Linked DNA regions of Homo sapiens: all the other regions are linked to region 1. The links come from fine-mapping of genetic effects on gene expression. A gene starts in region 1. Each other region holds a variant in brackets. All regions are shown on one strand. Distances are from middle to middle.

The links. PIP is the estimated chance that this variant, and not a neighbour inherited with it, causes the effect. A credible set is the group of variants that fine-mapping cannot tell apart.
Region 2: its variant is the best candidate, but not a certain one, in a credible set for the expression of GPR87 in neutrophils (BLUEPRINT, PIP 0.53).
Region 3: its variant is the best candidate, but not a certain one, in a credible set for the expression of GPR87 in esophagus mucosa (GTEx, PIP 0.54).

The regions. Positions count from the first base shown.
Region 1 is chr3:151,311,187-151,322,379 of GRCh38, forward strand. It overlaps GPR87 (G protein-coupled receptor 87), which reads right to left and starts at 5,634. Exons shown (of 3, transcript NM_023915.4): 1 at 5,400-5,634. All of the region lies in intron 16 of MED12L (mediator complex subunit 12L), which reads left to right. RefSeq lists an enhancer at 5,020-6,219.
Region 2 is chr3:151,341,019-151,348,248 of GRCh38, forward strand. All of the region lies in intron 16 of MED12L (mediator complex subunit 12L), which reads left to right. All of the region lies in intron 1 of P2RY12 (purinergic receptor P2Y12), which reads right to left. Among named protein-coding and RNA genes, the nearest start is that of P2RY13, 15 kb to the left of the region's middle. The variant T/TA (reference allele first, on the strand shown) is at 3,287.
Region 3 is chr3:151,329,203-151,340,395 of GRCh38, forward strand. All of the region lies in intron 16 of MED12L (mediator complex subunit 12L), which reads left to right. P2RY12 (purinergic receptor P2Y12) reads right to left here. Exons shown (of 3, transcript NM_022788.5): 3 at 7,641-9,657. The coding sequence starts at 9,643. The coding sequence ends at 8,615. It overlaps P2RY13 (purinergic receptor P2Y13), which reads right to left and starts at 347. Exons shown (of 2, transcript NM_176894.3): 1 at 279-347. The coding sequence starts at 326. The variant A/G (reference allele first, on the strand shown) is at 7,846.

The sequences.
Region 1 (11,193 bases):
ACTCTGTGAAGGATTGAGTACATTTTAGCATTTCTGGGTCTTAGGATGAAAAGTAGAGATAATACTTGAGGTATTGTACTGTTGGCTCTAGGCACAGAATGAATAGTTTTTAAAATTATATATATATATATAAACTGTGTGTGTGTGTATATATATATATTTAGTGTTGTTGTTTACATTATGAAATTAGAATGAATGTTTTAGGGTAAAGGGAATATTGATGTTTAGCAGATACTATAGTTTTATTTTTCCAGCAGCCATCATGGTATATGCTGACACATTGATGTAGTAATTACCTTTTAAATGGCATTTACTATTCTTCTATTAATTTGTTTTGCTATATATAATATAGGCATGTACCGTTTTGACCTAATGCAAGCCATTATCCTCTAAAAGTTTTCATTTTTTAGGTTTTTAAAATGCTTAGGTGTGACAACTAGAATACAATTGTAGCTGCGATTATTTAAGGATTGCATATTACTTTGAGCCACATTCTACTTCATCATGATATGTAGCACTGTTTTCTATATAAATATATCTAGTAAACAGTTAATTTTAGGCCAGGCGTGGTGGCTCATGCCTGTAATCCCAGCACTTTGGGAGGCTGAGGTGGGCAGACCACGAGGTCGGGAGTTCAAGACCAGCCTGACCAACATGGTGAAACCCTGTCTCTACTAAAAATACAAAAATTAGCCGGGTGTGGTGGCAGGCACTTGTATTTCCAGCTACTCAGGAGCTGAGGCAGGAGAATTGTTCGAACCTGGGAGGCGGAGGTTGCGGAGGTTGCAGAGGTTGCAGTGAGCCAAGATCACGCTGTTGCACTCCAGCCTGGGTGACAAAGCGAGACTCCGTCTCAAAAACAACAACACAAAAACAATTGATTTTGCAGTTTTTCCCAATTTGTCTTGGAGCCGGTTTATCTAAAAAAGTTTTGAAAGGCCCAGTGATTTATTTTCAGTTTTATTTGTAATTTTGGGGCCTAGCAGGTCTGAGGAGGAACAAGATGGGGGACAGGTAGGTCATCCACCCCGAAAAGAGTATAGCAAATCCTCAAATGCCTACAGTCTAGAGGCAACAGATATTTATGCATTGTTTTCTTGGATCTCTCTTTTTAGTTCTCAGCCTGAGAGCCACAGAGCTTCATACTCTAGTATGTGCAAACAGTCCAAGTATTCTGTTAACTTTTTTCTTTCTTAACTAGATCATAAGCTCCTTTAGTACAGGGACTTCAGATCATTTTGTTTCTGCTGCCCTTTTGGTATACTGGCCTTTGCTTTGGAGGCATTCCGAATCTTGATATAGTCAGTAAAGGGTACCCTCTAGACTCAAGGACTTGGAAAACAAAGTTTCACTTTGTTATATGTCCTCCAGAGAGTTTCTCTGGTGGTCAAGAGACAGTAATATCTTTGACCTGAGAGCCTGTTCAGGCTACAGGGCAAAACCCTTTCTGGGAGCTTGAGAAGTCTAAGTGTCTATCTTGCTACATACAACAACAGTAAAAGAGCTCCCCAAATGCTGGCTAGTATTATTGTGTGCCTAGAAGTGTTCTAAATTACCTATGTATATTTTAATTTATTAAAAGGACTTTGGATTCACATTACAGGTTTGCCACTTACTTGGGCAGGTTACCCAACCCCTCTGTGCCGCCTTCTTCTGTAAAACAGCCCTCATAAGATTGTTTTGAATGAAGTATTACCATAGCATAGACCTTTTATTCAAACTTGACATGTAGTAATAACTCAGTATTGACATGCTACTTGAGTGGGTAGTAAGAATTAGTACTCTAGTTTTTCAGATGAAAAAACCTGAGGCTTAGAGAGAATACTTGGAATACAATATACTTGGGCTATTTGCACATGTTATTTGTTCTTTGAGCAGATATGTGCTGTCGCTGGAGTGCTAGAGCTTGCCCTCATTAACACCACTAATGAGGGGCAGAGCCTGGATTTGAACAGAACGTAAGCCCATCTCAGTGCTGTGCTCCTAACTACCGCTCTGCTACTGCCTGCACAGAAGTTTGGTATTCATGTGCTGATTAGCACCTGATGCCTCCTTTGGGAAAACTACCAAGTTAAAATAGCTCCAACTTGATTGCAGGGGATCATGCACCCAAGTTGGCCATTTATCTACTGTAGTCTATACTATGGTACTAGTATATGGTAAATATACAATAAGTCTATATCATTTTACATATGAAACTACCCACAAAAAGAGGTAACAGCAAATACAGCGTGGTTGACTGTGGGCAGTGGTTCAAGGTCAGAGCTGTGCTCCCTACTGTTATGCTTGTTAAGCCTCAGTTTGCTCAGCTGTAAAAGTGGATAATAGTAATTTATACCTTAAGGTTGTCTGAGTTAAAAAAAAAAATGCATGATAAGGCCAGGTGCGGTGGCTCACACCTGTAATCCCAGCACTTTGGGAGGCCGAGATGGGTGGATCACCGGGTCAAGAGATTGAGACCATCCTGGCCAACATGGTGAAACCCCGTCTCTACTAAAAATACAAAAATTAGCTGGGCATGGTCGTGGGCGCCTATAATCCCAGCCACTTAGGAGTCTGAGGCAGGAGAATTGCTTGAACCCAGGAGGCAGAGGTTACATGGTGGTGGGCGCCTATAATCCCAGCCACTTGGGAGGCTGAGGCAGGAGAATCGCTTGAACGCAGGAGGCAGAGGTTGCAGTGAGCAAAGATCACGCGACTGCACTCCAACCTGGTGACAGAGCGAGACTCCGTCTCAAAAAAAAAAAAAATTGCATGATAAAATATGCAGTAATCTTGTCACATATCAAGCTAGATGTATATGCTAATTATTGTTGTTTTAGTATTAAGGATAGAAGGACAGTTTGTGCCATACGGATCCTATCTAGTACATTAGAAAAGGTCATTTAAGGAGCTTTGCTCTTCTTTTAAAATGATGGAAATCATTAGAAATTACTGTTTAAGAGAAACTATAGAATCATTGATATAAATGACTTAATGTCATGGCTTACACTAAATGGAACTTAATCAGTGCTCTCGCTTAAATGTATTTTAGTGTAATTTTTTAAATGTTTGGCCAATAATAATATTAATGAAACAAAATATGTTAATTAGGTACAAGATAGAGAACAAATATTCTATTCTGCCTGTGTTTGCCATATAAGGAGGGAGAGGATTTCGTAATATTTGTAAGGTCAGAAAGAACCTGTCTTTCACCATTGGCCTGAAGCAGAAGGTCTGAGAGGTGGGTGCATCTCATCTAGTTTTTAACAGCAGGGTCACCTTGCATTTGCTTCTGCTCTTGCCTCCCTGCTTTAGATAGTTACAAGTATAAGAACTGCAGCTGGCACTTGTATTAATACTTGTATTAATGCAAAACTTTCAGCCAGGTAGGAAGAGCAAATAGTACATTCATCTTCATCTTGTAGAGGAAGAATCTGAGACCTAGCGAAGTCGAGATTTGATTAACATCACGTAGCTGGCTAGGGGCAGAATTGGGAAGGTCCTCATTTGTGGCTCTACCCCATTTCCTCTCAAGCATTCCTGTGTGCTTGGTCCAAGCCTTGGGTTCTTTCATTACCAACCCCAGCGTCTCAGCATATCACCTGGATCGTGGGAATCTAGAGATGCAAGGGGCCTCTAATGACCCTCTGATCTAATCCCTTCATTTTACCTGTGAGGAAGGGAAGTGAGCTCCTGGGGAATTCAGAGACTTGCCTAAGTCACACTGATAATATTTGGTACAATCAGCCCTTAAACCCAGGTCATTTTGCTGTGAGTCCTGGGCTTTCTACTTTAAACCCAAACTACTGCCTCTTGCCTGCATAGAGAACATCTACCCTGGAGACTGGGGGATGCTTCTAGGGAGGTGACTTTACGTAGATTTCACCTCACTTCTGTCCTGTCTTCACAACCTTACCCTTTATTGGGCTTTGAGGGATTTTCATGGATTTTCCAGGCTTTTCTTATTTCAGGAGCATACAAGGAACTAATGGCCATTGTGGTCTCCTCTATCTTAACTTTCCTTGGTATTTTCTCAGAGTAAAGAGCTAAGCGTGAAATATTTTGTTGTTGTGGTTCTTAAAGAGAGTTAAATGCCAAGATATTAAGGAAGAAAAGCAGGCAGACTCTGAAGAGCACAAACAGCACAACTCTAAATAAGAACATTCCTTTTAACTTAGTCTTCCTTTTCCCACCCACATCTCTGAATGCAGTAAATCCTCTTAGCATGTTATCTCTGGTTAGGGCATTTTCTCAGTGTCTTCATGAAATAAAGATTTTCTGGCGGGATACTTTCTTTTTATAGGCTGTATCCTTAAATATGAAATTCAGCCATCCATCTGCTCTTCTAGGCCCTTGTCCTTAACCCATGTATACCTGCAACACATTTCAAGTAGAGGTCAGAAACAAGAGTCTGAGGATGAGATGTTGCTGAAGGATTAAGAGAATATGCCTCTTTGATCCCTAACTTCATGGAGACAGTTAATCTCAATTGGCAGAAATAATAAATATCAACAGGGTGTCTGGCTTTTTTCCCCCCAGTATAAAGTAATATAGAACCAGATTTGTTGCTGTTCATATTGCTAGTAAATTGGAGAACAATTATGAAAGAAATCTCTTGTTAAAAATGTTAATATACCTAAAATAAAAGCAGATTCAACTTGAGAATGTGATGTAAAATTCCATAGCAGATAAATCTTAAAATAAGAAATCAAAAAGTCACTCTACTTTAGGCTCATCTATCTTTTAAAAGTCCTTATTAAAATTTAAAAGAACTGAGATCTCCATGCTTGCTTCTTGTTTTCCTCATTGCAGTGAAAACTTCCCAAACAGTTTGAATGTGGAACAACAGTAAGCTGTTCCTAACCTGTTTGTCAGTCACTGGGCAGTTTTCTCAGTGCCTTTCCTGACATGTTTTAACATGACTTCTCCAGGGATCAGAATGAGGATTGCCCTGTTCTTTGTGGTACAATGAAAAGACTGAGATTATTTTATCAAAATGAGACAGTTGGGAAAGAGAAAAATCTTTGTCTCTCTCTTTAAAAAAAAACAATACGGATAAACGATTATGAAACAAATTTTAAGTTTTGGGTCCTGGGAAACAATTATAAGAGACTTTGACTTTTACTCATCTAATAAAGTAAATGTGGTTTAAAAAAAAATGTACTAAATAGGAGTGATTGCCAAAACATTGTTTCTACTTTTGAAGGCACAATATGTAGTTTATATTTCTGCCTGCCTGAGCTGGAAACAGTTGAAGCTTCATGGCTCACAGTGGTGCCTCATATCTTACTGTCAGCATTCTAATTTCTAGTTTTTCTTCAAACCTCAGAGTTAAGCAGAAGTATAATTACAGTTTTTAATCATTGCTGTGTCTTATCAACCACGGCTTTTAAGAAAATGAAAAATTTTTCGTTTACCTTTCATTGTGGTGGCTGGCTGTCCATTCACCTCATACGGTGTCTTCAAGTTGAAACAGGTTTCTTGTCTCTAATTAAGAATAAGCTTTGAAACTAAGGTCGGCAGGGAAGTGGATTTTCTGGTAAAGCATGAAAACGAAACATCTCCCCTACCAGACAAGGTAGGTATCTCCCTTACCCCTTTAGAGATTGTCCTTTGGGGCACCCTTTCAAATTCTCCTGCCAGGCGACTACTGGAACAACTTGCTCTCTTGCTAATGTAAATGACTCATAACTAAGAGTAGGTGAGATTTGTCGACTGGGGAAGAGTATTTCCTGAACCTGCAGGAATCAGATGGTGATTCACCTGAAGGAAACACAGAGGGCTGGAGCTTAGACTGCCAGAAGTCTGCTTAAGGAGTGGGGGATGAAGTCTCGGGTTGGGGCCTACTAACTCATCAGATCCAATTTTTAGGTCATTTTTTTTTTCCAGCCTCCTATTGCTATCTAGAAAACATGTATTTGCAGCCTTCCTGCCAATTAAATTTTGGATTAAAAGAAATAAGAATATGCTTTATGACAGATGAATTCTTTGAAAATATTATTCTACATATTATTTAAAGAGTATTGTTGTAATTGATAACTTTGGAAACTTGTAGTCTTATGAAACTAATGAAATCTGTAGACATATTTTTACACATACACAATAGACATATTTTTACACATACACAATGATAAGTATTCAAAATATGTTAAATTATTCAGGGGCTGGGTTCACTGACTCCTTTGAATGCTGACCTTTAACATAAAACAATTTATTTTATTGCTTTAAAAAAGCATCCAACAATGACAAATTTATATAATCATATCACTTTTTTTTTTTTTTTTTTTTTTTTTTTTTTGTGAGACGGAGTCTCACACTGTTGCCCGGGCTGGTATGCAGTGGCATGATCTCAGCTTGCTGCAACCTCCACCTCCCGGATTCAAGTGATTCTCCTGCCTCAGCCTCCTGAGTAGGTAGGATTACAGGTGCCCACGACTACACCCGGCTAATTTTTTGTATTTTTAGTAGAGACGGGGTTTCTCTATGTTGGCCAGGCTGGTCCTGAACTCCTGACCTCATGATCCGCCCGCCTCAGCCTCCCAAAGTGCTGGGATTACATGTGTGAGCCACTGCGCCCGGCCACTTTTTCTGATTTGTAAATAATTTTCTTGCTTTCAGATGAGAATCTCAAAGATTCTGATATTTTCTTGAATGCAACATTTAAATACATTTAAAAAAATAAAATTTCATCAAATGGAATCAAAACCTGTTATTGTGGATGAAGATAAATGAAAATAATCAAAGGTGAAAACTTTTTTGGAGTGAATAAATCTATAATAGGTATTACTTAGTGTTTACTTGTGTCTTAAGGAAATAATGTGTACGTACTAGTTGATTTTCCTTATGTTTTTACAGAAAAACAAATGGGTGTTTAACTTAAAAATCAAGAGTTGGGTATCAAAATTATATTTTTTGTATTTTCCTATCTGCTTCCTAACCATACAAAAACAGACACCTACAATTTTAATTTTTTTTTTTTTTACATTCTGCTTTGGGTGGATTAAGTATGTTACGGAAAAGTAGCTAGTCCTGGGGAAGGTGTTTGAATAACAATTAGCCAACTTAATAATGGCCTAATCTTTTAAGAATTTGCAGATTTACAAACAATCCTTCATTTAGTTTTGACTCTCTCTGTGCTATTTTATACTTCCCCATTGATTTAGCATTTGAAGCCAGTTTCTTTTCTTTTCTTCTTTTTTTTTTTTTGAAACCAGTTTGTTGTATTTTGAGCAGAAGGGTTATGCTATGCAGACTTTAGTTTGGGAGATTTGTCCTTGTGTTGACCTTTTTGCCATTTTTTCATGATGATTCATAAATAATAAATGAGGTACTGCTCATAATTTGACATTTTACTGCCAGAACAACTAACTGTTAAGTACTAAAGGCATCAGTCAAAGGGAGAAGCATCTCTTATGGCCCCCATAAAAGTATGTTGTGCAAAGAACTTTGCTGCAAGTACTGAGGATTATCACCCCAAATTTCCAGTGATGTGTATAAAATCTTAGTAGGGAGCTTATTCTGACAGATATTTGACAGGCTTCTGTTATAAGAATAAAGACCTTTTAAAAAAAAGAGAGGGCCCTACTGTGAAAGGGTTATCATAGGCCCTTCTAAGTGCGAAGAAGGGCTTGTGAGGGGCCTATGAAATTTTCCTGTATAATGAAGCATCTTTAACTTTATGTGTGATGGTGTTAAGTAGGAAATAAGGTGATGTCCCTTCACTACAGTAGGTGGCCCCCTTTTTCTCCTGAAGTGGGCTTGGGATAGGATGCACTTTTTCCTTTCCCAATACCTCTGTAAGCAACGTGCCCGGGACGGTAGCCTAACAGCTGGCTTGGAGTGTTTCAGTGTTTCGTTGGCTGGCAGCGCAAATTTAGTATAGTAACAAAAAAGTTAACGCAAGGCAGCCTTTATGCGTTAGTCTTAAAGTATATTATGCCAGTCTCAAGTTGGGACTTGTGAAAGCTGGTCTTACCTAACATTCCAAAAGGGAAGTAATACATGTTTAGTCATGAAAAAAGTGTAACACTTTGATGCAAAGAGCAGCTAACAGCCAGCCCATAGCTTTATTATTGTTCACATAATCGAAAGGTAAACCAGCATAATTTTTTTCCTGCTGGTTTTTATAGCAAGTCTCACATTTCATAAAAGCCCCGGGAATCTTCATAGCGATAATTTCCTTTCCACTTCATTGGAAAATCCTGTTAAATGCAGGGCACTCTTTTATTAATTTTGTTTAGCCATTACAAACCCCAAATTTATTTTAAATACAGAACATCCAGGTGTGTGTGTGTGTGTGCGTGTGTGTGTGTGTGTGTGTGTGTGTGTGTGTGTGTGTCGGCCACCAGAAAACTTTAAAAAATTTTGTTTTGTTTTTATACTAGGGTGATTTTTTTCCTTCTAACATTATTTTTAAAGGTATTAAGACTACAAACAAATTGAAAGAATTGTTCAACTAGATTTCATCTAGATTTATAAATTGTTACTGTTTTTCACATATACTCTTCCCCACTCCAACATATTTACTGACGACAGTAAAATGTCAGATTATGAGCAGTACCTCATTTATTATTTATGAATCATCATGAAAAATGGCAAAATCTGCATAGCATAACTCTTTACTCAAAATACAACAAACTGGCAACAAACTAAACCAAACATATTTGGTTTAGTCACAGAAATTCAAATGAGGATTCCCGTAATCTTACTGATTTTTCAAAATATATTCTTAAAGAGACAGGGGCGCTCAAGGAGAAAAAGTGTCACATCTTCGAAGGAATTAAAATAGGTAAGATTACTCATAAGCCTTTCTCAGTCCTGAAATGAACTCTTTATTCTGTTTTCTCATGTTTTTGATATGAGACATTGAGCAAATGTATTACCAAGGCTTACCTTGGTTTCTAGTGGTTTCTCCATGGCATATGACTTTTTCCTCCCTTCTTTCTTTGGCTTTTCTGCATTGGTGTGGACCTGGGGACAGTGTTTCCTCCCAGTGTTGGTAGGCATAGTATTTGTGTTATAATCTCATTTTTCTGTATCACTAATCTCAGATGTATCTGTTTCTTCTTAAGGAAAATGCACATATAAAGGGCGTCATAGTCCTTTATAGTACACTAACTTGTTATTACAAAACAAAGACAAGCAGGGATCTAATTGCAACATAGCTCAAGGTGATCTCTCTTGAATGCCCGTGTTGGTCTTTTCCATGTGGCTGGAACATGCAACAAGGATTATAGTAAAACCTTTGCCCAAGTCTTACTGTTCCATCTCTGTACACAAGTCTTTCTAATTGTGGCTCACATCCAGTAGCTGAGAACTTGTGCTGAGTATAATTATTATAAGCCCTTTAATAGTCAGTCCTTTGACAAGATTGGTATCATTGGGTCCCTATGCTTGAATTACTGTGTTTAATCTGTCATTTGAAATTATTTGTATCTATCAGGTCTGCTTTACACGAAACACCTTTTTCTGGTATGAGAACTTCATTTGATTAAAGGGAAGGGGGATGGTTTGGAGATTGAGTCTGGAGATAAGGCTGCATCTCTGACTGTTGTCCTTTTACTGATACTCCTTCCTATGCTGGGCAACTTAATCTATCTCCTTGCTTTGTAAATCTTGCTTGTGCGAGAGGCAGTGTCCGGCTGTGACAAGACTAGTGATTGGGGTCAGGTAAACTCCAATTTGGAACATCTCCACTTAGCAGCTTTTTTTACTTTGGGCAAAGCATATCTTCTTCTGAAAATGAGCATGGCAATGCCTGCCATGTAGGGTTGTAAAGCTTAAATGAGGTAATCTATTCAGGATAAATATATACAGTGTAGTTCCACAGTGTTTGGAACTTGGTTGGCATTTAAGGGTACAGGAGCACTTTGTCTTTTGTCAGAAGGTGAAGGGAGAGCAAGCGAATGAATGGGGTGTCTGATGCATGGTGGAGTTGGAATGATATGCCTCAGCTTAGAAGTTAAGGTACATCCATAATTTTGGTTGCTTTTAGAAAGCTTCTGGTTTCCTATTAGTGACAAACTGATGATTGCTTGAAATGCTTTTTATAATCTTTTTTGACAGTTTTTTTCTCCTGTAAAGAAGGAAGTTTGGACTTCTTTATTCCAGACTATCTGAAATTGTGGGAATCTATAAAAGCTGAGGTTAGAATATATGGGGAGAGAAGGGAGGTCGTCTCAGTAGGGTTACTGTGTTCAGGATAAAGCTTCATTCATTCACAGTTTGGGCATTTTTGGACTTAGGAAACTCAGTTGTACAGTTAAATAGAATAAAAAAAGACTTAAAGACCAGTGACATTATGTGTATATATGATATAAAGTCAATACATAAAGCTAATATTTTTTTTAAAAAACCCAAAGCTATGAAAGCCTTCAGAAATACATTAGATACAATTAAGATCAACACCAGTAAGTAAAGTCATATACACACATTTAACGTTTAAACTGAAGTTCAAAAATAAAGGTGGACATTCTGTTATTATGCCTCAGGATGTTATATTTGTCAGTTTGAGTTGTATTACAAGAGTGGCAAAAGTTCACATGCTGAGTAAGTTATGTAATTTTTAAAGAACTAGTTTACTTCCTTAAGTCTTAAATTTAATTTCCTTTCTCTTTCATATTATCTTGCCTTTTTCTTTCCCTTTTATCACTCCCCCCAATTGTCTCAACTTCCATTCCTACCATTTTCTCTTAGTGTCCCCATCTCTCCTTTCCTCTGACTTCCTTTCTTCCCATCTTATTTTTTTCTATAAGGACTTCATATTAGAATGAGAATGGAGGCAAGGAAGCAGAAACCCGGGTTACATGGATATTGAAAATATTGATACACCCAGTTTCTGACCAAGGCTGAGTTCTCTGGCCTGTGTGGTTGCACCCAACTGTTTGATTTGTACTTCTCTGTTAGCTATTTCACATGGAACATGTTCACTATGCACATCATAGCATAGAAAGGAATTATTCTACATGTTCATAGAAATCCCTGGGAAAAGCCTAACTAATATAAAAGCTGATTTGTTTCTCCCTGGAAGTCTTTTGAGGCAGGGTCTTGCTCTGTCATCCAGGCTGGAGTGCAGTGGTGTGATCATGGCCCACTGCAACCTCAACCTCCTGGACTCAAGTGATTCTCACACTTTTGCCTCCCGAGTTGCTGGGACTACAGGTGCATGCCACCAGGCCCAGGTAATTTTTTTTTTATTTTTTTATTTTTTGT
Region 2 (7,230 bases), 28 kb after region 1:
AATGATAAATCCAAGTTGAGATCAAGCCTTCGAAGTCTGCTTCCTGGAGAAGATTTTAAGCTTGCTTTCTTGGGTGGTTAATTTATCTGAAATATATTGTGTACAACACTGGGTGATGTATTTTCTTCTAACAAGTAATTATGTTAACTCAAAATGCGTGCTGGCTAGGGATGTTAAGTCTCTGGCCCTTTGTTTTTCCCTTGGTTAATAATGTCATTATTTTAAACCTGTGTTTGATTAACTCCTTTGTAGGTGAAACAGCTTCCTTCTATTATAAATTAGCAGATTCCAAAATTACATTAGAGAAGTGATTGTATCCATTGCCAGGCTTATTATATACTGTGTCGTTCATGCTTTTCTTGAATAGAATTTAAATATAAACAATTTTTTTTTGTTTCTTTACCTAACTTTGAGTTTTTGGGAAAATATAACATTAAATTAAGGCATCCTTGTATCACAATTATTTACAGTTGTTTAACTTTGAAACCAGAAGGGCAAAAAATATGTTAGGGGTGAGATTGAAGGGCAAAGTGTTTTGCTGCTTTAACTTTTTTTTTTTAATTTTATTATTATTATACGTTAAGTTTTAGGGTACATGTGCACAATGTGCAGGTTAGTTACATATGTATACATGTGCCATGCTGGTGTGCTACACCCATTAACTCGTCATTTAGCATTAGGTATATCTCCTAAAGCTATCCCTCCCCCATCCCCCCACCCCACAACAGTCCCCAGAGTGTAGTGTTTCCCTTCCTGTGTCCATGTGTTCTCATTGTTCAGTTCCCACCTATGAGTGAGAATATGTGGTGTTTGGTTTTTTGTTCTTGCGATAGTTTACTGAGAATGATGATTTCTAATTTCATCCATGTCCCTACAAAGGACATGAACTCATCATTTTTTATGGCTGCATAGTATTCCATGGTGTATATGTGCCACATTTTCTTAATCCAGTCTATCATTGTTGGACTTTTGGGTTGGTTCCAAGTCTTTGCTATTATGAATAGTGCCGCAATAAACATACGTGTGCATGTGTCTTTATAGCAGCATGACTTATAATCCTTTGGGTATATACCCAGTAATGGGATGGCTGGGTTAAATGGTATTTCTAGTTCTAGATCACTGAGGAATCACCACACTGACTTCCACAATGGTTGAACTAGTTTATAGTCCCACCAACAGTGTAAAAGTGTTCCTATTTCTCCACATCCTCTCCAACACCTGTGCTGCTTTAACTTTATGTAAATATTGCTTTGCAGAAACACACCTCCCTGGTGTCTCAAACTGCAGTGTCCTTCTGTTATCAGTGGGAATCATTTGTGTTGGTGCCTTTGCTGTGAACACGTTTTGGTTTTTTCTTCTGCGTTTTGAGTATTTGTCTATGTCTTTACATGTTAAATATCTTCATTGGTTTTCACAGTGCAGAGCAGCAGCTCTGCATCACTTGGGAACTTGCTAGAAATGCACATTTTTGGGCACCAATCTAGCTGAGTGAATAAAAAACTCTGGGGTGCCCCACCCTGCATCTGTATTTTAGTGAGCCTTCCATTGATGCTTGGTACACTCAAATGTGAGGACCACTGATTTAAATGGAATAAGAATTTTGTTGCCATTTAGAACTTGAAGCTATTAATATCAGTCACTTCAGACACATAATAATCCCCAAATGTTGGTCATCTTAAAGGGATTAGTTTGATATTAAACTCTTGGAAAGGGTTGTATTGTTATTTTTAAATATGACTATTGTAAACAAATCTTAGCCTTCCTTATTTGTTGGAGTCTCAAAATTTTAAAAAGAGCTTTTATGCTGTATGTACTTCAAATAATAATTGTCAATATTTAATTTCTTACACTGTCATGGATTAACTCACTTTATTAATAATCTCAACTATTCTCTGAAGTACGCGTATCATCCTCATTCTCTGGATGAGGGGAACTGAAGAGCAGAGCAGTGAAGTTAGATGGAGACCCCATTCTGACCTGTGCTGTCTAGTTAGCCTTAGAATCTGTATTTGTGTATTTCTGTACCTGAGAATCTTTCCCTATCACACCCTCTCCTCAACCCCTCTCCCACTAAGAGGCCCCAGTAGTGAGAAGTGAATCTCGTGTGGGATGGTTGTACGTCTTTCAATAAAATAAGGACCATACTCTCCTTTACAGCAAATTGTAAATGCTAAAGGATGTTTATGATGCTTTTTCTAAGACCATCAAATGAAACAAGGCTTATTCAAGAAAATGATTATTTTTAACAAATCAATCTGCCATATTACTAATTCAGAATACTTAAGTCATACTACCTTATTGAGAATTTATATTTCTAAACCTCTAGAAGGGCTAACAGTAGAGATTTGAGGGATAAAAGAAGGGCTTCAGTTCTTGATCTAAATTAACTTTATTTTTCCTCTGATTTTTAACTCACAACCACATACCTATTTACAAACCACCTCTGATAACATTTTTTCATTGGAGGAAGACTGCCAGTTAGACCACTTAATGCTGAAAGTGACTAAAATCTTTAAGTGAAAAGTATCTCAGTTACAGAAGTATATTTTCATATGAATAGAAGCAGAGCAAGTTATAGATACTTTAATCTCTCATTAGTAAATAACATCAACACATACAGTTTGTAGTTATTTGTGTTAGTGTTGGGAACAGAGCTAACTTTGGTTGGTTTGGTTATTTTGTATAATTGAGATGAGTTAGAAAAATGAACAGAATTTTTACTTTTAAGTGGCTTAACTGGTTTGTTTATTTTACCAAGTCTACTAAAGGTAGTCTGCTCATCTGAAAATGTTTGCTTCAAATGGGATTACTCTGAAACCTGTAGTCTTTTGGAACTGGGCAGGAGGATAGAGATATAATTATGACATTTGATAGCTCTTAGGCTGTTTTAGTTCCAGTGGTCTCTGGTTCTAAATGTGGTCATTTTGACATTAATATTTTGTTTGAGGGTGTGTATTTTAAAGCAGTGCATAGTCATGTCTGCTAGCTTGGCTTTATCCATTGGAATATAGAAATTTAGGTTAGATACCAACAGGTTCCAAAAGTAACGAGTCTTGGGCATTGAAATATTTCGCAAAAATGAATGCCGTCTTTTGTGACCTAGTTATCTGACATCCCAGTCTTAAGTGTTCTGCTTGCAAGAAGAGGACTAGTAGATATATAAATATCAGTCATACTGTGGACTATAAGCTGTGTAGAACAAAGATTTAATATACAAATGTAGTTAAATCCGCCTCCTATTTTCTTGATTTACAGAAAATATACTCTATGTATAGTTACTAATGAT[T/TA]AAAAAAAAACCTGTTAATTTCTTCATTCCTGTAACAGTTTCCTCATCCATGTGCACACCCATTCTTCCTCCCAGGCTCGAAGCTTATTCCTGATGGAACATTTATATGAACTTGTTTTATTCTAAACAAAATAGCATGGTATATTGAAAGATACAGCTGAAAGAAATAGTGTTTTAAGGCATCTTTTAAGAGTTATTTAATAAGCTAAAAATTTTAACTAAATGCATTTATTGTTTCTAAAGACTGGTTTTTACTGCTTTTCTTAGAGACGTGATAGGTTGCTATGTGCAGTTTACTTCCGGATATATACTGGATTTGCATTTGAAGTAGAGCATGCAAAAATTAGGAAGTACTGGGAAGTATGAAGTGCCATATTTTGTCTTATCAGAAGGACAATTACATCCACTTCATCTGTTTTTATTAGTGTTTGGAAGAAAGGAAGCGCATTCTGAGTGAGATCTTTTTCATTTTTCCTTAAGGACATTAGTAATTTAAAAATTCTATGATAATTGAATCATTGTTGAAATATCAGAAAATGTGAGTAAGGTGAAAGGATAATACACAGCTCTGATCATCTTACCATCATTATGACATCTTTGTCAACACATACACATTTTGGCAAAATTTCTAATCAGTTATTTTAAAGAAATAAAGATGAATTAGAGCAGACCTCAATTCCTTTAACTCCATTTCTTCTTTCTAAGGACATTTGGCTCAAGAGACATATTTTAATTCGTGTAGTACAACAAGCCTGCCAGGGTTTTGGGCATGCATGTTTCTAGTTTCTTCATCTATTAAGTTTCTGTGAGTATGAGATAATATCTGGAGAAAGAAAGTAATTGATCTAAAGGACGAGATTTTTAGAACTTAGTTTACATGGGAGATGACACATTCAATTCAATAGCAGCAGGTGGACTAGGATAAAAGAGGTAGCCTGACGTCTCCTGTAACAGACTCTCCAGTTGATGCTTTTCCTTGTCCAACAACTGTATCCTTGAGGGAATAAACAAGAGTAATTTTTGGGTGTTTATCTCAGATTATTAATATTACTTACAACTGTGCAACTTGAGGGCGTTTAAACACCAAGTTGAAAGAGCAGAAATCGTTGATACTTTTGAAAATATTTGGTATATTTTCTTAGGTTGACTTTATTCTCATTTGTTATGAATTGCTATTTGAAGGCTTCTACGTTTTCTTTCTTTTTTCTTTTTCTTTTTTTTTTTTTTTTTGAGACCAAGTTTTGCTCTTGTCACCCAGGCTGGAGTGCAATGGCACCATCTCGGCTCACTGCAACCTCTGCCTCCCAGGTTCAAGCAATTTTCCTGCCTCAGCCTCCCGAGTAGCTGAAATTATAGGCACCTGCCACCACGCCTGGCTAGTTTTTGTATTTTTAGTAGAGATGGAGTTTTCCCATGTTGGCCAGGCTGGTCTCGAACTCATGACCTCAGGTGATCCTCCACCTCAGCCTCCCAAAGTGCTGGGATTATAGATGTGAGCCACCATGCCCAGCCTACATTTTCTACTTGTATGAAAAACTGATGTAAACAAATCTTGTAGGCTCTTGAAAAATAGTAGCTTCTAAAATGCCTCTGCCTGTCCTATTTGAAGACTACTGTAGTAACACCTAGCATGAGTTCCCTGAAAATATTAATGCTAAGAAAGGAATACTGTCTTTACACCCCTTATAGAGGTTGAGCAGTGATTCTTTTCCAGCTCACTACGTGCTGCTTTTGCTTTCAGTTTTATCCCTGCATTCTCAACTCATGACTTTGTTCCTTGGCCCAACTCCCTGAGCATATCAAGGCCAAGGAATGATTTGAGCTTCTTAAGTGTCTTCTTCACCTCAAAATGTCTTTTTATTTTCACTAATTTTCTTTTTTTCCCGATGGTCAAGTAGAAAGATGTTCCTTTCTTTCTTTCCATATTAATCCAGCTAAGAGGCCATTGTCTCTTATATCCTTTATCATCAGTTATCTGTTCCCCAATCTTGATTTCTACTATGGAAATTTGTTTATTTGAAAGATAGGTCTGAAACAAGAGTCTTTTGATGATCTTCATAACGCTCTTTCCTCTCAAGCTGTTGTTCTTCATGCCCAACTCCTGGTAAATGTGGGTCACTTCCCTATCTTCACCATTTCATCATCACCTCTTACTTTAACCGCTTGTTTCTTAGCTTTGTGCCCTGCCACTTAGAGAAACTTCTTCTCCTTTGAGGTTCACACATGGTTTGTCAGTAAACAAGAAGTCACATCCATTGTGACTTCTTAACCTCACTGGACGTTGTCAGTGACACTCTTTCTTATGTATCCCCTCCCCTGACTTGTGTGACCCTGAATTATAGTATCTTGTTAATTAAGGAGCATGTATGTGCACCATTTGCTGGCTTATTTCTCCCCTCACCATCTCAGCTCTCTTAGCCCTTCTTCCCTAAACATAATGTGAAGGTTTTGCACCCCTCCCAGGACTTGACATACTGCCCTTATTCCTGAGCTGTCACCTCTGTGTTAGGGCCCATATCAAACCAATTACTGGACATTTACACATTTCTACCTACCCTTCAAATTCCTTGCAATTACATGTAAATTCAAAAGTTCCCTGCTGTTATAATGTATTAATTTTTTATACATTGTAAATAGATTAATAATAATTACTTGGTAATATAAACAATACTATTTATTAGTATACATTATAAATAATTTTAACTAGTGGATACATCTTGAAGTCCAGTGAGATGCACATTTACTCCTTGGGTTCAAAAGCCTGATCCTTTCCTAACTTCTTAGATACCTCTTCATTTTGCTTCTTAGTCTTCATTCCCACCACTAAAACTTAGTTCACCCTACAAACTTTTTTACTCTAGCTTTGTCTCTCACATCTCCCCTTCATTTTTCTCAACACTTAATCATCAGGTAAAGTTTCCTACAAAACTAATTTTTCTCCTTATCTTCACCTCTGCCCTATTCCTTTAGCTATATATTTGTTCATTAGTCTGCTTATTTTGTATTTAGTATGTTCAACAAATATTAGATGCTAATTCATTGCCTATTAAGGAGATTATAAAAATGAACAAAACAGACATGGAGTCTTCCACAAAATTTACACACTAATGAGGAAGACAGACATTAAACAAATACCTAGAAAATAAGTGAATTATACTGTAATAAATGCTCCAAAGTCTACTTCCCCTCCTTCTGTGGGGAGGTTTTCAATAAACTGGAGTGACAGAGTGAGGGAACTGACACTGTATTTGTACATAGCATTTCAGCAAGTGAAATCGTGGCTATGAGAGTATTTTAGGTGTAAGGACGAGCAACAGCAAAGGGAGGAAGTGCCCTGGAGTCTTGGTGAAATGTTGAGTAAGGCAGTTCGGTGTGGGTGTGGGGGATGTGCAGAGGAGGAGGGGAAGTCTAGCATGTGAATTAACAGTAGTGAACACTGTCCATTATACTTCGAAGCATTTTACACGCTTTATCCCAGGTTTTCTCACAAAAACCTTACAAGGAAGCGATGTTACCCCATTTTTCAGAGGAAGAATTAGAGGTTTAGAAAGGTTTATTATTCGAGATCATGGACTTGGCAAGTGGCACAACCAGTATGCAGTCACAGCTCTCTTACCCCAAGCTTGGGCTATTATCAGTAAATTTGGAGCCATAGTGATCCTGTGCGATGTGAGGAGCACGTGGCTCTTTCTAGGATGCTTTCCTTCACCACCCCTCTTTGGACTTCTAGGTCTGTAAATACTACTTTGATGACATTGAATCTGTGCTCCTTGAAGACAGGAATCATTCATCCTTGTATTTTTTCAGGGCTCCTAGCATTTTGTCTTGCCTCAAATAGATATTCTATAAACAGTTACTGAATAACTATGCTACAGTCATCAGCCTTCACATGGACATTTACATTAGGACCATCTGATATGCCTTAACTGAAAACAATTGCCAAA
Region 3 (11,193 bases), 18 kb after region 1:
GGTACTTTTAACAGTACCATTACTTTCACATCCTTGTGAAATCCAAATAACAGGTTCTGCCTCATTCACAGGTGCTACTGTTAGCCATAAAACAAAACACTGTTTAAGAGATAATAATACATTATTATTACTAATACATCAGATTGCTGTAAATTATGTAATTTCTTATGCTCATAAACTATGGTTTGTAGAATATTAACTTTAAAGCACCTTTTTTCCCTTAAGCATATTCTTTTATATAAGCAAGCACACTCATAATAACAAAAATTGAAATTCACCTTTGGGAGGATACTCAGTTCTCTCTGTCTTCTTATGGCGGCAGTCATTAGTTCAGCCTACAAATGAGCATGTGAAGCAAATGTTCTGCTTTCTTATAGTGGATTTCCTTCCTTATTTTTACTTATGTAATGTGACCCATTAGAACCTCTTCATATTTAGACCTTTGGGACATTTGCTAATACTCTATTTTAGTTCAAACTTTCATACTGTTAATCTGTGACTTGAATAAAGAAGCTTATTTGCAATTATCTTTAAATTTCTTCATAACTTTCTTGAAGTTTATCTTCTTGATCTGCATGTTCAGTGAACTTTTTGAGTGCCTCTTGTATATAGTGGAAAGTAGAAAGATGAAGAAAATAGTCCCAAATTACAATCAAGTAGGAGAATAAGACTACCTAAAATCAGACAGAATAATCTTCTGTATCCTTGTAAACTGGATTTTCCAGTAATTTGTGTTCAGGAAGACGGTATGTTTATTTTTGTAGGTATTTGACTTAGTCTTCTGGTTTGGGGATCTCTGAGAGTTAACATGATGTTTTCTGAGAGGTGAAGACTATTAGATCCAGATTTTTGGAGTTAGAATCCCAGTTCCACCAATTAATTGGGATTAGATTATAGATAAATGATTCAACAGCTCTGTGTCTCAATTTCCTCATCTGTGTAATGGGTTTGAAAATAGTATCTAACACACTGTGTTATTAAGAATGAATTGGTTGCCTGGAATAGTGCTTGACATATAGGAGGCACTAAAAAATGTTAGCCACTTTTAGTGGCTTTTAGTCCCATTGCCATGGGAATGAATTGCAAATCCAGATAGAGATATTATACTCTTTCACTTAGTAGAGGGCCATTTTTAGAAATCTTTTTTGTATTTGGTGTATTTCGAGTGCAGAGGACTTCAGGAATTTCATCAATCAACATTGGGCCAATATCTGTGCATTTTTTTTGCTTTAATTCTCTTCAAGTTTGAAAGATGTAATGGTGCTTTTGCATAGAGAAAGTTGTTGTCCATGGCAGAAATCTACTTGCCAGGTAGGCATAGGAAAAGCGGAAATTAGGAGATCTTACGGAGGATGTGGAGTTCATGGTGAGTTTCATTTCATGTTTCTTGCCACAAGTGTTACCATGGAGTTAGACGAGACTAGTGTTAGTTGATCACAAAGTTTTGGGTGACTTGGCTTTGAATTCTGAGAAGAAAAACTTAATATCCCCCTGGACATTTTAAAATATGAGGCAATACAGTGTCTAATAGTTTTGATTAGACTACCCAATAACGGCACAGTTTGAAAAATTTCTCTTTGACTGAAATAAATTAATCCTTGGGAGTATAGATTCAAGATTTCATTAATAGAACATACATGTATGTCTTAAACATAAATGTATATCTTTTTGTTTGCTTCAGCAGAGGAAAAAAAATCCTTTATTTCTTAAGTAGAGAAATTTAACCTACAAAATTAATTGTAAATTTTCCTATAGCCCCAAATCCATAATCTAAAGGAAGATCTGGAATAGTTTTTCTTTAAGCAAGATAAATTCTGTGCAGGATAATTTCATAATCTGAAAACTGGAAATCACTTCTTGGTCAAATTTCAAAACACTGAAGTGTGGGAAACTTTCCAAAGAGGAACTGACTTACAGTGCCTGTTTCTAGAGTTATGGAAATAGAGTCTCTTAAATGTGGTAGATGTCAAAGTGTTTGACTATAGTAAATATCCAATAGATCATTCATTTCTATGTGTTTGTGCTTCTTATGTATTAGCTGATTTTTCCTTAGTTTACAGCAGCACTATTGCCTGCTGGGGAGGCCTTTTGCCCTTGAAGACACAGCTGAGAAGCTGCTCAGCAGAATGTTTAGGCGCCAGAGTGCCTGGGCTCAATTCCTTTTTCCAATTCTTTCTTTTCTTATGACCTTAGGCAAGCTGCTTATGCCCACTATGAAATGGTTGCCTTATCTTTACAATAAAAATAAATAATAGTATTTGCTTTACAGTGTTGTTAAAAGAATAAAATGAGTGAACATTCACCAGTGCTTAGAATAATGTCTGTCATGTGGTAGGTATCATGTAGGTTTCTTGTTAAATGAAATTGAAAGAAAATTGGAATGTTGTGCATACATATGGTGATGTCTCACGAAAGGAGAGAAGAATCAAAGAAGATACAGTGAAAGATCCCAGAGGCTAGGAGCCTATCAAATGGGAATAAACTAAACATTTAAGATCCTATAGGGCTCTAAGGAAATGTAGTTAAAAATCAGTAAAGTCACACTAGCTATACTGTTTTAAGTGATTATATTATCTTATTTAATCCTTAACAATCCCCAGAGATTGGTCCCATTTTTAGAGTTGAGAAAAAAGGAAATGCAGAAGTTAAGCCATTTTCCCCATATCATGCAACCCAAATCTGCCGTAAAGTCACACAGTTGGTCTGGTTCCAGAGCCCATGCTTGGAACCTGCCTCACTCTCTTGCCTCCGATTAAGCCATAGATAGGGTGACAGTGGAATTGTTTGCCAAATTCTGGAGTTCTTGAGCTGAAAGTTCCTGATGTGTGAGAAGGAAACAATCAGCCACAATGTTTAATGGACTTGTGAAACTTTATGCCAATGTAAATTGAGTGAAAGCAGTGTGATCAGAAGGGATACAAAGAAGATAAAATGAAAAGTCACAGAAATCAGTCTCTAGCCAGATAGGAATAAACTACTATTTCCATTTGTAGTCTTATTTGGGATTTCTCAGTTGCATCAAAATTGACAGTCCAAGGCCCAGTACCATATAAATAATATGTGAAAAGATGAGGAAGTATTTGCTTTCATTTGGGATGAAAATTGAAGTAGGAACTCCTATACTTCTATACTCTTAGAAAAGACTTTTACTTCCCATCAAAGTATACCATGGTACTTTCTCAGATTATGTGAAATTGTTTTAAAAATTCCATACAAGAGTAACTAAAAGTGGTAAACTAAAAGTGGTAATAATAAGCTGAAATAAGTTATACTTTTTATTAATGTAACAATCTGTTTTTCTGAGTAAGAACAATAGTAGAAAATATCTACATGTAGCTAGAGATAGGCAATAAATTCACTGCTATTTGGAACATTTAATATTTCACACTATGTTTAAAAATTGAAATACAAACATATATAGTAGAAAGTGAAAGTTAATACATATACATACCAATATATGTGTACAAATATATTTACATTTATTTATGTATTGGATTTTTGTTTCATTCCATGTTAGTACATGTAGACTGACGTGATTTTTTTTTTAACTTTATTTTAGGTTCAGGGGTACATGTGCAGGTTTGTTACATAGGTAAATTGTGTTTTGTAGGGGTTTGGTGTACAGATTATTTTGTCACCCAGGTGATAAGCATGGTACCGGATAGGTAGTTTTTCAGTCCTTACCCTCCTCCCACCCACTACCCTCAATGTAGGCCCTGGTGTTTGTTGTTTCCTTCTTTGTGTCCATATGAATTCAATGTTTAGCTCCCACTAACAAGTGACAACATCTGGTGTTTGGTTTCCTGTTCCTGTGTTAGTTTGCTTAGAATAATGGCCTCCAGCTTCATCCATGTTGTTGCAAAGGACACGATCTCTTTCTTTTGTGTGGCTGCATAGTATCTCATGGTGTATATGTACCACATTTTCTTTATCCAGTATACCAATGATAAGAATTTAGGTTGCTTCTGTGTCTTTGCTTTTGTGAATAGTGCTGTGATGAACACACACATGCATGTGTCTCTATGATAGAATAACGCCTATTCCTTTATGTATATACCCAGTCATGGGATTGCTGGGTTGAACGGTAATTCTGTTTTAAGTCCTTTGAGAAAAGCCAAACTGCTTTCCACAGTGGCTGAACTAATTTACTTTCCCACCAGTAGTGTGTAAGTGTTCCCTTCTCTCCACAACCTCACCAGTATCTGTTATTTTTTGACTTTTAAGTAATAGCCATTTTAACTGGTGTGAGATGATGTCTCATTGTGGTTTTGATCTGCATTTCTCTAACAACATGCCAATCAAATTTAAAATCAGTTATGCTACATAAATTTACCATAGTTAAGCTGCGACTGATGGGCATGTAGTTAGTTTACGATAATAGTTTTTCTCTATTAAAAACAATGCTATAGAGCATGTATGTGTCCATATATTTTTGAGCATTTTTTCTAGCATGTTTGTAGGAAGTTTCCTAGAAGAAGGATTATTGGTTCAGTCCTTCTAGGAAAAAGTTATTTGTCAAAATGTTAAATAATATTTTCAAATAGTTTTCCAGAAAGATTGTACCAATTTATTGTTCAATTAAGAGTGGGATTCTTGGCCAGGCATGGTGGCTCACACCTGTAATCCTAGCACTTTAGGAGGCCAAGATGAGTGGATCATGAGGTCAGGAGTTCAAGACCAGCCTGGCCAAGATGGTGAAACCCCGTCTCTACTAAAAATAAGAAAATTAGCCAGGCATGGTGGCAGGTGCCCGTAATCCCAGCTACTCAGGAGGCTGAGGCAGAGAATTGCTTGTACCCGGGAGGCGGAGGTTGCAGTGAGCTGACATCATGTCACTGCACTCCAGCCTGGGTGACAGAACAAGACTCTATCTCAAAAAAAAGAAAAAAAATCTTTTAAATTAATTTGAAATCTGTAAGTGAAAAAGCCATGTTATATAAATATAAATTTATTTCCTTATTGGTGATGTTATGTGTTTTTTCTTTCTTTCTTTCTTTTTTTTTTTGCCATTTCTATTTCTCCTGGAAATTGCCTTTTCATGCTCTTGCCCCATTTAAAAAAAAAAGGCGATTTCTCACTACCTATTGATTATGAAGTGCATTTCCACATCTTTAGTTCCCACTGACAGTATTGTAATCACACCTTGAGTGTTGGCAGTGAACAGTGATCAGATGTCTTCAGTGCAAAATGATTGAAACACCTAGGTACAAAAAGAGAGTTGTGTTTTTTTTTTTGTAAAAGGTTTTTTTCCACCTGTTTTTAAAGTACTGGTCCAGGGGGAAGCAGTCTTCTTTTTTAATTTTTATTTGTTTATTTATTTAGAGATGGAGTCTCACTCTGTTGCCCAGGCTGGAGTGCAGTGGCTCAATCTCGGCTCACTGCAACCTCGTGTGTTCAAGCGGTTCTCCTGCCTCAGCCTCCTGAGTAGCTGGGACTACAGGTGCCCACCACCACGCCCAGCTAATTTTTATTTTTTTAGTAGAGACAGGGCTTCACCATGTTGGCCAGGCTGGTCTCAAACTCCTGGCCTCAGGTGATCTGCCTGCCTCGGCCTCCCAAAGTACTGGGATTACAGGTGTGAGCCACTGCACCAGGTCCCCCAGTCTTCTTTTTTTTATAGAGCCAGTTAGAAAATACTTAGGTTTTGTGAGCCATGCAGTCTACATCACAGCAACTCAGCTCTGTCGTAGCATGAAAGCAGCCATGGATAAAACCTGAATAGTTGTGTTCCAATAAAACCTTATTTATGGACATTGAAATTCAAATTTCATATAAATTTCATTCGGCATGAAATTTTATTCATTTGATTTTTTTCCTCACAAACATTTGAAAAGGGGTACACGTGATATTTCATGTAAGTATACAATGTGTAATGGTCAAATCAGGGTAACTGGGATATCCATCACCTCAGGCATTCATTTCTTTCTATTAGGAACCCACTCTTTGAGTTACTTTGAAATATACAATACAGTATTTTTAACTATAGTCACCCTATTGTGCTATGGAACACTAGATATTATTCCTTCTCACTAACTGTATTTTTGTACTCATTTACCAGTACCTCTTTATCTCCTCCTTCCCCATGACTCTCTAGTAACTGTCATTCTACTCTCATAAATATGTACAGTTATTATGTATCCATAACAATTAAAAACAAAAATGAAAACAAAACATTCCTAAATCCCAAGCTGTACAAAAATAGGCAGTGGGCTGCGATTTGGCCTGTGGGCTATAGTTTGCCAACACCTGCTTCAGACCTTTTCTGTAAGAAACCACTGAGAAAAACTGTCAATAACCAATACCTTTAGGACTTGTAAGCCACTGAGGCTATGGGCAAGACTACATTTTGTTGTCTCATCTTTTGAACTTTTCACATCTGGACCTGAGTCTACAGAATTTGGCTTCATTTAAAAAAGTAAAACTCACTGTGAAATGTGGGGTTAATATATATTAATATGCCAAAAGCTAGAGATAATGGCATGTTTTATGTATAATGATCCCTCCATAAATACTAACTCTCACACTGTTTTGAATGGGTTTAGTTTGATGTAGTATATGATGTCTAAGGTCTCTGAATAAAGATATCCCAGCAAAGTGTGATTTTAGAGTTTTATGTAAAATTTCCATGGCATATATACATACTCATAAAACATAGGTAATTTCAAATACTTTCAGTTACTTTTACTAAAATACCATATTACTATTAGCATTTCTGTTTATTTCATCTCTTGTGGAAATTGTCATCTCAGTGACAAAGATTTTGGGGGTAGTTTGTGTCCCCTCTGTAGTCTCCGAACATCTGACCTCCATGACACTGTGAAGTAGTCAGTTTCAGTCCATGCTCTACCCCAACTTGAATGGGTGGAGGGATGAGTCTGCCTTTCATTTTTGTTATATGCAAAAGAAGAAGGTTAGATTAGTTGATCTCTAGATTGTCTTCTACCTCAAATATCCTGGTATTCCTATAGAACATGTAAATTTATGCATATGATTTTAGAGTGAACTGTACTAGTCTACATAGCAGAAATTATTACTGCTGTTTATCCCAGCAGTGTATAGGTTATATACTATATGAACTGTCTCTGTATCTCCACTGACACTGAGTGCTCACTTTTAGTGGTGCCGGAGAAAGAAATGTGGCTGGTTGGAAATGAATACCACTTAGTAGTTAAATGAGTTCAGCTTCGTAATGAAATAGAACTCAGCAGAGGTTGTAGAGGGTTTCAATAAAAGTGATTATTATTAAAGTTCAGTGAACTTTATACAACAATACACCCTTTTATTTCTTCTGGCATTATATTTAGGTATTGATGTCTGTTCCTCCTTCTGTTTGAGAGTCACCTCTGAGGATCATAAAAAATTGAGATAAGTGATGTAAACTTCCACATGTGTTATATGTTTTGTTTATGTTAAAATAGCGAATATGCCTTGTGTAGAATTAGACTGCATGTTATAAGTCTGACCTGTTTTATCATTTACATTTGAACTTATTGAAATGAGAAGTCATCTTCAGAAGAGACTTTGCACAATAACATGTAATAAAGGTGTTGGCATTAATTCTTAAATGGATTTGATGTAGTTGTATATGGTATGGTGAGTCATGGTATCTAATATCTTTGAACAAAGAATTTACAACAAAGAATGATTTAGAGTTTAATGTAAATTTTGTATTTTATACACACCAATACAAACAAGTAATTACAAACAGATCAATCACTTTCCTCTCAGTAGTTATGCTGTGCAACTTTGTAATCATATTTAATTAATTTTTTTCACTAAGGTAAAATGTTCATTAACCTAATTAGCAGCTATTTTCTAGAAGCTAATTAATAAAGGTAAGTGTCA[A/G]TGATGGTATTATTGAAGTTGTAAAAAATTAGTAAAACTAGTTTCTCTAGAATTAAGGAAATATTTCTATATTTTTTAGTATTAGAATGTCATAAAAGTAAGTCTCCTTATTTTAATGACTTCGATATTTCTTCTCTTTATTGTAAAGGTCTTCTTTAAATCTTTATCTTCTAAATAAACATAAAAAATTAAGTCCAATCAAATACAGTTTCAATTAGTTTAAATCCCTTAGGTTTTTGCTAATAATGAAAAGTTAATAGTTATTATTCTTTGTGTATCCCACTTACTTAAATTTTTATAAGTATCCCAATAGGTCAGGATTTGGTTAGGGGACTAGGATATATATACATTTTAACTATCATTTTTGGTAAGAAGATTATATCCAATTGATCGTTCTTCCTTAGTTGATTATGAAAAAATAAAATTGTGAACGATAATGTATTTTAAAAATTACAGTAAATATTATATGATTACTCATTTTGGCAAAACTCTGCAAAACATGAATTCTGTGTAGTTTTGCATGCAGCATGACAATTGGATGTCGTTTGTTTTGCTGCTAATACAGCTACAGTTTAGATTAGTTTTCTATATTTTAAGATAGCTTTTCATACTGGAAAGGTAAATGAAAATTGCTTTTGTAATCTTCTGTTTCTTTAGAGTCATTATTATTAACTTAGTTGCTTCTTCGTCAGTTAATATTTTTACTTAGCGCTTTGCTTTAACGAGTTCTGAACACAAAGAGATTGAAATATTTCCTTAGTTAATTTGTTTACATTGGAGTCTCTTCATTTGGGTCACCACCATCCTGTTCTTTTTTCCTATTGTCCTGGGACAGAGATGTTGCAGAATTGGGGCACTTCAGCATACTTATCAAGGAATTTCTGAAGGACTTGCAAAGGAAAAAATAGATGAACGGATCCAGGCATGCATTTAAGGAAGTTAACCACAGAGTGCTCTCTTTCACATAGAACAGAGTATTTTCAGCAGTGCAGTCAAAGACATCCCGGGTTTGGCTCAGGGTGTAAGGAATTCGGGCAAAATGGAAAGGAACAAAACAAATAAAGAATACAGCAATGATAATGAAAACTTTGACGTTCACCTTTTTCCTGGGGACTTTACCTACACCCCTCGTTCTTACGTATGACCGGTACAGTTCTTTTGTAATGAGTGTATAACATACAATAACAATTAAGAAATTAATCCAGAAAATGACTTGACAGATGTAATTTACTATTTCATGCCAGACTAGACCGAACTCTGATTTAAGGAAAGAGCATTTCTTCACATTCTTGTCTCTCGGCTGCCTGTTGGTCAGAATCATGTTAGGCAAAGAGAGTAAGAACATGAATGCCCAGATGACAACAGAGAGAATCTTAGCCCCCAAGAGATTTTTGGGGTTGGATGTTTTAAATGGCCTGGTGGTCTTCTGGTAGCGATCGATAGTTATCAGTCCCAGGAATGAAATACTGATATACATTGTGAAATAAAATATGACGGAGGTAACTTGACACACAAAAGTTCTCAGTGGTCCTGTTCCCAGTTTGGCATCACTAAGAATTTTGAATGGAAAAGTCAGAATCATGAGAAGATCAGAAATGACTGTGTTCTTAAGAAAAATAATAAAGTTTGATTTACTCCGGATTTGAAAGAAAATCCTCATCGCCAGGCCATTTGTGATAAGTCCAACAAAAAACAGGACAGTGTAGAGCAGTGGGAAGAGGACCTGGGTGATTTTGTAGTCTCTGGTGCACAGACTGGTGTTACCAGGCGCAGAGGTGAGGTTGTCGACGGCTTGCATTTCTTGTTGGTTACCTAGAGAACAAAAGAGAGGATGGTTATTTTCAGCCTAAGGTAGTTATTATTGCTGTTATCTCTGTGTGTAACTTTTTTGGACACAGCCTCCTCTAAAAGTTGAGGTTTCTCATCTTCATTGTAGTAGTTAGTATGAACACAGAAAACTGAATCCCAAAATATTTCATTGCAGCAAATATTGCATCTCTGCTGAAGAGAAATGATCTGAAGTACAATATGTGAAGTTATAGATGCTTAGTATTTTTTTATTTGTTGAATGTTTGCCTCTTAAAGCACATTTTGTCTTAGAGCTCACTCATATTTATATGCAAAAGCTGGAAGAGAAATAATGGGGCTGTGCTTTACTCTTCTCTAGCTTCCCCTCCATGCCTTTTAGCTTTTTGGTTTCTATTCACAGTCACTTTTCCCCCCAACGTCCTTATTTCTGAGCTTCTTTTACTGTAGTACCGTCAAAACAGTTGAGAGAGAAATGATGGATAATTGCCTGTTAGAATCCTAAAGTAATAAAAAGGGGGAAGAAATTGATGGAAAATTACTCTTGGGAAACTTATTAAATAAAATACTGAATCAGTAAAAAAAAAAAAAGCTGACCTTTTTTCTTTATATTTGGAAGATATTCCTGCCTCTATATTGCTCACTCATTCAAAGATTGGCCTCACGGAGATTCATTATTCTGCTTCAAATATTTTAACCCATGTGTATCTTATTTCCAACTTTCCTCAGTGTTTTGAAGTTGCTGCATACATTTTCTTGAATATCATTCAGTATAAATTTTAAAACAGTAAAAAAAAAAATAAGAGTCAGAAATGGCCTGTGTATATATGGTCATGAGTTGGCATTCCTCAAAACAGGGCATACTTTCCAGATTTATGGAGTGTGTAATGGTAGCTAAAATAAAATATAGGTTATTACCACAATAGGCAGCTATAATGAAAACTTAACAAGTGACTTGAATATGCTATATGGCATCTACATCTTGGGAATTTGAAATGACGTTTGTAATCTTTTTATTTCACCAGAGATAAGTGAAATTGATTCTATATAAAATATTCTTAATAATCAGAGATATATTGAAAGTACAAATAACAAATTTTAAAAAATAACTTTCGTGTAAAAGATATTTAGATAAATGAATGTAGCACTTAAATTCCCCAAAATGTCCATGGAATTCCTTTCTGTCCTTAATTATGGAAGGAAAACGATTAAGAATCATGTTGTCACAGTATGGCTTCAATTTTCAGCATCTCCTCACCTATTTAGCGCTTTAAAATAATGCTAAACAAAACCTAATGTTTTCCAATACAAGATCACTGATTTTAACCTTTCCTGCTACTGCTGTGTGGTCTTAGTTCATCCCTGACCGTTTTGGAAATTCGACTTAGTGAATATACATTTTGTGTAGTCTGTAAGATATTTAACAAGTATTCTTGACATTGAGAATTTCAGCTCCCTTTATCTGTATTTAAATCTCATTTTATACTTGAGGCAAAGTAACTAAGACCATTTATATTTTATTTCTATGCTTTGTATAATTTT